3 separate regions of the Homo sapiens genome follow, and regions 1 and 3 are each reported to be linked to region 2. Evidence: microRNA targets listed by miRTarBase, many of them from high-throughput screens and not tested one by one. Region 2 holds a microRNA gene; each other region holds the end of a gene's coding sequence.
Evidence for each region. Region 2 holds the annotated microRNA hsa-miR-193a-3p (AACUGGCCUACAAAGUCCCAGU, at 2,206-2,227, shown strand). A microRNA usually pairs through its seed, bases 2 to 8, with sites in the 3' UTR of a target mRNA and lowers its output. Matches are read on the target gene's strand: a 7mer-m8 pairs with bases 2 to 8, a 7mer-A1 pairs with bases 2 to 7 and ends in A, and an 8mer does both.

Region 1 (3,000 bases), not on the chromosome of region 2:
ATCTTAGAGGATCTTCCAGGCAAAACATGCTTGGTTTTTATTAATGAACTTACACAAAAAGCCAACCCAGACCTTTAAGTGCAATGTGTGATTGGTAGCCAGGCGAGGATGGGTTTTGGAATTAACTCTTCCTACAGTCTGCTATGCATTATCACCCCCAAGTTAATTACCCCTGCGGATGAAAATAGGTTTCATGACTCATAAGCACCAATACAACACTTGGCAGCAGATGAAAATGCAAGGACACATTTGCAGGAAGCTGACATGAATATCTATTTATATGTGGGGAGATTCTTAGAGGTGAGGCAGGCACCTCCCATGTACCAGGATTAAGAGGCTGCAGCAGATCCATCAATATTGCCACTTATCCACACCCACACACACACACGCGAGTGCGCGTGCACACAGAGTCCTGGTTTCCACCACTTCAGTGATGGCAGTGGCAAAGCAGGAAAAGAAACTAAAAGGGTGTTATTAACAAGTTCCGACACCAGCCCGGCCTCCACACCAGAGTTCTGGGCGAACCAGTGATTTGTTTCTCCCCAAACGTGCCTGTACCCATCCCCACCTCCCAGTCTTCCCACTCCTTTGATGGGAGTGGAGTGGGGGATCCAAGTTTCTTAATAGTCCTTCAGCCTTGGAGGGGACCAACAGGGCCCAGCTCGCCCCGCCCAGGAATGAGATGTGGCCAGGAATCAATTTGACTGGATTGCCGGGTTTTGTTTTGCTTCCTCCCTCCTGTTTTCTGCTCTTCTATTTGCCTCCCAGGAAAGTACAAGGTTCAGATCAGGTTTGTTTGCCTTCCCCTACCACTGGGAGGACTCCAGGCTGCTCTCAGCCCACGAGCAGGGGCTCTGCTCTAAAGGGCAGTAGTCTTCTCTCCGCTTCCCCGCCTCTCTGCACCTCACAAACGCCGCCAAAAGCTGATTAGATGAATAATTGCATTGCTTCACCAGCAGGAATGGATTTTTATTTGATGTTGGAAGTAAACCTTTGCTTCAGGAACTAAGTTTGGGGTTTCCCCCCCTCTTCCTCATCCTCAGAAACCCTCTCTAATCAACTAAGTCTTTAGAATTATTTCTGCCTTTAAAAATAATTATTTAAAATACAAGAAAGAAAACTTGTAATGAATGAGGTGAAAACTGGTTTTCCAAGGAACCAGCCTGAAGCTACTGCGGACTCTCCAAGGCTGAGTGTATGCATTTGCTCCCAGCTCTGTGGCAGTTTTGTTTTAAATATGCAGACTGATGTCTGTCATATCTAAGAAGCAAAGCATCCTAGCTTTTCTCCTAGACTTTTTCGCCCACTTGTCAAGTCACCAGCTGCACTGGGTGTCAGCCTATGTTCACCGCCACAGGGCGAGGCACCAGAAAGCATTCTTGACAATGCCATTTGCAGCTGGGCCCGCATCCGGGGGAAAATAGAGATGCTGAAGAGTAAACCGAAATCGCTTAGTCAGCAACTGTCGCCTCCCCAAGAGGTGAATTTAAATAGCCTGGTACCGAGGGGGAGGGGCAGCAAGGCAGCACAGGGCCTTTCCCACAGGCCAGCTCCCAGGGCTTTCAAAAGCACTAGGATTTTCGTTCTATACTGGAGGTAGGGAGGGTGTCGCCTACGTCGGAGTTGCATGGCCTTAGCCCTAGAAAGACAAAATTGCTGACTCAGCGCAGTTAATATCAATTGAATTTATTACAAGTTACTAAGCTCCAAGGCACATTACAGTGTTCTGTTAACTACAGAAATGTATAAAGGACAAACAGAGCAGATTCTCCATGTCTAGCATTTCGCTCTACTGTTCAAAAGCATCCGTGCATCAATAAAGCAAAAACAAAACAACACGTGTAGATCCAACACATTCAGGTCAGTAGAAACAAACCAAAACATTTTCCCCTCACAAACTTGCAACAAAATACACCCCATCCCCCCCGACACCCCCTTACCATTTTGCAAACAAAACAGAAAAACAAAACAAAACAACAAAATAAAGTGAAGACTTCAACACTTGGGGCAGTTTAGAAGGAAGCTTTCACCATTTTATAGCATTTTTTTTTTTTTTTTTTTTTTTTTTTTTTTTTTTTAGGCAGCAACACTGGCCTTGGCAAAAAAAAAAAAAAAAAAAAAAAAGTCTTTTTCTTTTGTGTGTGTTTTTCCTTTCAGAGAGTGCATAACATTTACAAAAATACACACCAGCAGCAGTCGTTGCTAAGGGCTATTAATTCTGTACCTAGGCAAACATTCTGCCACCAAATAAATGCTAACGATATGATGCAAATGACCCAACCAATACTATACTGCTTAACACAAACCAGCTTATCCTTCAAATGAAGAAGTTACATACCTTTGTTTCAAAATATAGAAACATACGACGAAAATAATGTCTATACATAAGACTAACTTTTTGCAGTTTCGTTATATTCACAATTCTACACCTTGGGGGTGAGGGGAGGGAGGGTCGAGTTGGGTTGGGGGAGGGGCCCTCAGGATTGGAGAGGAGCTGGTCTAGGGCAAAGGAGGTGGCTGCCCAGTGGTTCAAGGGTCTCTCTCCTTTTTCACTTTAACATCCCCAGCTAAGATAGTCGCGATTTCGCCCTGCATGAAGGCCCAAGGTACATTCGACCCGACTAGGGGGCATTTCTCTCCGCTGGGGCAATACACCTCGCCGGTGGCCCCCTGGGCCTTGATACTCTCTCTAGAGCAAGGGAAGCAAAATTTGTGGCTGGGGACGGAAGGGCACTGAACGAAATGCGTATCCTCCAAACGTTCGTGGCAAATGGTGCAGCAGAGGGGTCCGCTGTTGGCCATGGGGGAATCCGGAATGTTTTGGGGGTGCACTTGGTCCATGCCCGGGTGGGCGCTAGGCGGCGGGGGCGCCACCTGTAAATTCAGGTCCCCGTTACGTGATGCCAAGCGGCGCTGCCCCGGCACGGAGGCCGGCGAGACTGGGCTGCTGCTGTTTCGCCGCGCCGACGCAGTGGTAGAGTGCACGGAACTGCCATCCTT
Region 2 (3,160 bases):
CAGGGATCCCGATGTGGGGATCAGATAAACCAGATATACCACTCAACCCTTACCAAAGTGAAGTTTAGAGACAGGGTCTCCCTCTGTCACGCAGGCTGGAGTGCCGTGGTGCGATCATAATTCACTGTAGCCTCTAACTCCTGGGCTTCAGCGATCCTCCCACCTCAGGTGTGTGCCACCACGCCCAGCTAATTTTTTTTTTTTTTTTAACTTTTTGTAAAGACAGAGTCTCACTATGTTCCCAGGCTGGTCTCAAACTCCTGGGCTCAAGCAATCCTGCCTTGGCCTCCCAAAGTGCTGGGATTACAGGTGTGCGCCACCGTGCCCAGCCTCATAGTGAGATTTAAAGGCATGATCTGGGTTGGTGAGGCCAGGAAAGAGAAGGCAGGAACATAGCTAATATCTATGTCGGGACACAAACAGATATGTCACGTTATTTTCTTTAAATGGCTCCAAATCTCGACCTGAAGAGGTTGGGAAACTCAACCTCAGTGGTTATTTGGGCTTCCCCATCACCCACGGTGCCTGGAATCCTGGCCATCTTGAGGCTGGGGATCTTGGTAGAGGCCTGGTTCAGGTCCCAGAGGAGACACGCAGTTACTCTCCCACATCCTGGCGTCTCCGGAGAGACAGTGGGGCAGCAGGTCTCCACCAAGGGGATTCCACTGACCTCCCACCCCTCGCTAATCTTGGGACAGCTCTTACTCAGCCTCAAAGCTTTTCTGTCCCACTCCTTTTCCACAGTCTCCCTAAAGGAACTCAGCTTTTCAAACAGCACAGCCAGGAAGAGAGGTTGTCTGCAGGCCGCTGGAACTGGGAGTTGAAAGCACGAAATTTTAACATCTCAAGAAAGTATGCTGCCCGGTACTATGCTTGGCACTTTAATTTATAATCTTTGCCACCAAAGCCCTGCCAGAAGTGCCCGGCGGCTCCAGGTTCTAGATGGGGAAGTTGAGGCCGGCGGCAGGCGCGCTCCACCGGGCGGGGGCGCGGCCCGGGAGCGGAGCGGCCGGCAGGGGGCTCCCCGCGCCGGTCTCCGCGGGAGGAAGCGCTGGCAGCTGCTCGGACGGGTCAAAGGAGGAAAAGGGAAAATTACTGGGCTCCGGGGCGGGAAGGACTGCGTGACTGGGAGGAAGGCACTCCAGACTGTCGAGTAGGGCCGCCCGCGTCGGGACCCCATCCCCGGGGCAGTGCGGGCCACCCGGGACCTGGGAACCCGGGCCACCCCCCACCGCCGTCAGGGTCTCTCCCGCCGGTGCCGCAGGCTGGAGCGGGCGTCGCGGCCGGGGGCGGTGCCGCCTAGGGGCGGGCGAAGGGCGGGCCGGGGCGGGGCGCCGTCCGCTCGGCTCCGGGAGGCGGTGCGGGCGGGCGCTGGCCGCGTCCGCCCGCCGGGAGCCGCGGGGCGCGCAGCCTTCCTGATGTGTCACCAGCACGTGGAGCCAGGTCGGGCCGCGGCGAGCAAGCCGACCCCCCCAACTTTCGAGGGGTCTCGCCGCCCCGCTCCTCTCCCGGCTTCGTCGGGCTCGCTCTCCTAGCGGAGGGGGCGGCGGCGGCCCCCAGGTCCCGGGCAGGTCGAGCGAGGCCACGGCCCCCGGCCAGGAGTTCGAGGGGCTCCCGGAACGTCGGGGCGCGGGCCCCGGCTAGCGGCTATGGCCCCCGTGCCCAGGCAGCGGTGCGGGCTCGGCCTTGCGGGAGGGTGCGGCCTGCTGCGAGAGGTCGGCCACGGCTCCTGCCCCGCGCCCCGCGCCCCTCGCCCGCCGAGCTGAGCGCAGGTAACCGAGGCAGAGCGGAGCTGGGCCTCGCAGGCGCGGCGTGGGAGCGTGGCGAAGTTTCTCGGCGCATAACTCTTGCGCCCCACTCGGGAGTGGGGCTGCGGTGGGGAGGCTTTGGTCCCCGCACCTCCCCCTCCCCCAGCGCTGTCCCTCGGCCTGAGCCGAGGCGGCCCGGGGGTGGCGTGGAGGCCGCCGAGCGTCGTGTAACCCTTGGAGGGCTGGGTTTGGAGCCCGCGACCCGAGGTCGGGCGGGGCGGTGGACTTTCCCGGGGAACGCCGCCTGAGGGACACCCAGAGCTTCGGCGGAGCGGAGCGCGGTGCACAGAGCCGGCGACCGGACCCAGCCCCGGGAAGCCCGTCGGGGACGCACCCCGAACTCCGAGGATGGGAGCTGAGGGCTGGGTCTTTGCGGGCGAGATGAGGGTGTCGGATCAACTGGCCTACAAAGTCCCAGTTCTCGGCCCCCGGGACCAGCGTCTTCTCCCCGGTCCTCGCCCCAGGCCGGCTTCCTCCCGGGCTGGCGTGCGCTCCGGCCAGGCTGCCTCTCAGGTCCACGCTGGAGAAGGAGTGGTGAGGTGCGCTCGCCCCGGCTGCGTGCGGTGATTCGGGAAATCCCCGCACTTCGCTGGAGAAATAGCGACGCTCTCGGAAGTGTGAGTCGGTCACTGCTTGGGGTCCGTACCCTTTGGGCAGACGTGGACCGCGCCCCGGCGACCTGGGTTGAGTGGACAGACGGGACCCGGCTTACCCATGGGCCAAGCCCTGCCACTTACCGAGGCCTGCCCTGCTGTGCTTTCCAGGGCGGCAACCTTGAGCTTGGGGGTGGGGAGAACGGGGCCTGACTTCTAGAATTGCCCCTGGGGAGGTGGGAAGCGGAGGTTTGGCCCGGTGGCGCAGGAAGCCCCTGTTCCTCTCCCAAACACCATTTCATTAAAGATGGATCTTTGTGGATGTGTTCCCAATGGCCGGTCTTTTGTTCCCTGACCGATGCAACATAATGTGGACCCACTCTAGTCCTCTTCAAGTTTTTTGCTGGAATTCCTTAAACTCTCCTTTAAAGTCTCTTATCTATTCCTCTAGTGCGTTTGCTTCTACTCCCCGAAAACAAAAACCCACCAACCCCTGAAACCTCGGGTTTGCCTGGTGTTGGAACTTTGGTTATTTGTCCTTTGTTTGTGTTGTGTTTTTGGCTCTTGGCCGTGGAAAAACATCTGGGGACATGCAGTGAGGTGACTTGAACTGTGTGAAGAACTGGTTGACAAAATAGGGAACGTCTGGTCCCTGTCTTACTTGGCTTTGGAAAACAGGAGAGGTTTTTAGGAGCTGGGAGGAGGGAGGGTGAGAGGGAGGAACCATCACGGCCAGGTTGGCCCACCCCTTGCCAGGTC
Region 3 (3,000 bases), not on the chromosome of region 2:
AAAATTAGATTATTATGCCATACAGGAAAAATTCAAAATGGAATAAGTATGTATGTATTTGCTCCATCACAGTATTAGAAAAACATATGGGAAAATATTTTTAATAATTTCTAGTAGAGGACAGATTTACCTACTGCCAGGCATCATGTATTGCATGGGAAGACAAGAAGTACACACAGCAGCTAGTAAATATGTTGTGTAAGCCCCCAGAAAGAACTCCCTGAAAAGGGGCCAAATACATTCTCAAAAAAAGATTCTATCACAATTCACAATCCACACAAATATATAAATATGCTAACATTTGGCAGAGATCAGAGCAAAAAAAAAACATTCTTAATAAGATTAATAAGCTGAATATATTAAAAAAATAAAACTCTGTATTGCAAAAGACATAGAGTAACAAAAGATAAACGAGTAGGTAAAATGTTGACAAAACATAGGACACATTGTCACTTATCATTATGGTTCAAAATCTATACATCAAAAAGGAAAAGATACAATAGAAAAGCAGGCAAAGGACATAAGTTGCCAAGTGATTGTGAAAAATGCTTTAGTTCATTCAGTTTTTAAATGAAATTTTGTTTTTTGTTTTTTGTTTTTTTTTGAGATGGAGTTTCGCTCTGTTGCCCAGGCTGGAGTGCAGTGGCATGATCTCGGCTCACTGCAACCTCCGCCTCCTGGGTTCACGCCATTCTCCTGCCTCAGCCTCCAGAGTAGCTGGGACTACAGGCGCCCGCCACCACACCAGGCTAATTTCTTGTATTTTTAGTAGAGACAGGATTTCACCGTGTTAGCCAGGATGGTCTCGATCTCCTGACCTCGTGATCCACCCGCCTCGGCCTCCCAAAGTGCTGGGATTACAGGCGTGAGCCACCGCGCCCAGCCTAAATGAAATTTTAAATGAGATGTTTTAACCAATCAAAATTGATCATTCATTTGACTGGTGAGACTGTGGGAAACCAGGCCCTCTCAGGCACTGCTGTACAACGTTGCCAGATAGCAATCTGTCATACATTTCGGTAAGCAATTGGCTTGGAAATTCAAGTCACAGGAAGTGAGCCTACAGAAATACTTGCACCTAAAGGCAAAAGTGTTTGTAACAGCACTGTAATACTGTTAAGCTGAAAGCTATCTAAGTGTCCATGAATAAGGAGTGGTTAAATAAATTACAGTCCTTCCACACAATAGAATACTTCCACATCACTACTATACTAAAGAATGAGGTAGGTCAACACAGACTGACACTCAAAGATGTTCCATAATGTGTCATCAAGTGACTTACAAAACAATATATGGAATGATCTCAAGGTTCTTAAAATGATACAGTTTACATACACAGCTTAGAAGGATACACATGGGTCTTTCTTTTTTTTTTTGAGTCAGAGTCTTACTCTGTCACCCAGGCTGGAGCGCAGTGGCGTGATCTCAGCTCACTGCAACCTCTGCCTCCTGGGTTCAAGTGATTCTTCTGCCACAGCCTCCCAAGTAGCTGGGATTACAGGTGCATGCCACCATGACTGGCTAATTTTTGTATTTTTAGTAGAGATGGGGTTTCACCATGTTGGCCAGACTGGTCTTGAACTCCTGACCTCAGGTGATCTGCCCACCTCAGCCTCCCAAAGTGCTGGGATTACAGGCATGAGCCACTGTGCCCAACCATGTGTCAATCTTTAGAAAGTGAAAATACAGGGCATTCCATTTTTAACCGTATGTGTGTTTTAAATTCTTTCCAAGCTTGTGTTACATCTATAATCAAAATGATTTTCAATTTCTTAAAAATAATAATCATTTGAGAAAACTGCCCCATTTATTATAAGAGCTATTTGTTCTCCTCTCAGTGCACCTGAGGACCTGCCCAGAGTCAAGAAGTCACATAGGTCTGCGTCACCCTGCAGTATGAGGTGACATCTCCTCTACTTAGAGTTCTAACTCTTGTTCAATTAAAATCCACAACGTGGCTGGGCGCAGTGGCTCATGCCTGTAATCCCAGCACTTTGGGAGGCTGAGGCGGGCAGATCACTTGAGACCAGGAGTTCGAAACCAGACTGGCCAACATGGTGAAACCCCATCTCTACTAAAATACAAAATATTAGCCAGGCATGGTGGCACACACCTGTGATCCCAGCTACTTGGGAGGCTGAGGCAAGGGAATCACTTGAACCCAGGAGGCGGAGGTTGTGGTGAGCCGAGATTGTGCCACTGCACTCCAGCCTGGGCAACAGAGCAAGACTCTGTCTCAAAAAAAAAAAATCCACAACATAAGGATAAGTTCCCCTAATGAAGGATTTTACCTACTGCCAGGTACTATTTGCTGCATGGGAAGACAAGAACATACAAGGCAGCTCATTGATACGTTATGTTAACCCCCAGAAGAAACTCCCTGAAATGGGAATCTCCAAAAGTGATCCCATCACAATTCACAATCCACATGAAAATATAAATATTCTAACATTGAACACTTAAATATTCACACTGGCCCTACCAACAAGATTCATGTGTCAGCTGCACACTGTCTTTACTGGCCACTGAAAAAGAAGGGGGCCAGTCCAGCCAGCTAGTCCCTGCTATTCACATGAAGTGATGTGGCCAACTGGCTCGAGAGCCCTGTGGCAATCCATTGGCCCTGGTGGCCCAGGAGTGATGGCACCTTCTTCATTCACCTCCAAGAAGGCATTGGTCTCTCTGGAAGAAGTCGATTTCCTCGTATGGCAGACTTCTGTGCAACCTGAGTTCTTTTTTCCATGTTTGTTCTTCAATCTCCTCTTGTACGTCTGATATGCTAGGTGTTAAAACATACAAGTATTAACAATCACTTTAACAAAGAGTCTAATTTGGTGACACTGTACACTTGTCAATCCTTCAGGTGTTTGTTTCAGTGGCATCATGTATGTATAAACACCCAGGGAAAAGAAGGGGGAAAGAGAGAAAGCTATAGAACAGAAGGATTCAGTGTATCAGAATGGCTCTTTTGTCTGGATGAACCATTTGTGATTGAGGCTC

Region 1: miRTarBase lists IRF2BPL as a target of hsa-miR-193a-3p. Seed matches in the 3' UTR shown: 7mer-m8 at 2,089-2,095.
Region 3: miRTarBase lists SLC10A6 as a target of hsa-miR-193a-3p. Seed matches in the 3' UTR shown: 8mer at 2,517-2,524 and 7mer-m8 at 2,472-2,478.

The regions. Positions count from the first base shown.
Region 1 is chr14:77,022,873-77,025,872 of GRCh38, forward strand. It overlaps IRF2BPL (interferon regulatory factor 2 binding protein like), which reads right to left. Exons shown (of 1, transcript NM_024496.4): 1 at 1,671-3,000. The coding sequence ends at 2,530. Among named protein-coding and RNA genes, the nearest start is that of IRF2BPL, 4.3 kb to the right of the region's middle. RefSeq lists an enhancer at 674-968 and a silencer at 1,175-1,400.
Region 2 is chr17:31,557,845-31,561,004 of GRCh38, forward strand. It overlaps MIR193A (microRNA 193a), which reads left to right and starts at 2,152; the gene lies at 2,152-2,239. RefSeq lists a silencer at 934-1,423 and an enhancer at 1,165-1,955.
Region 3 is chr4:86,821,124-86,824,123 of GRCh38, forward strand. SLC10A6 (solute carrier family 10 member 6) reads right to left here. Exons shown (of 6, transcript NM_197965.3): 6 at 2,345-2,779. The coding sequence ends at 2,565. Among named protein-coding and RNA genes, the nearest start is that of SLC10A6, 27 kb to the right of the region's middle.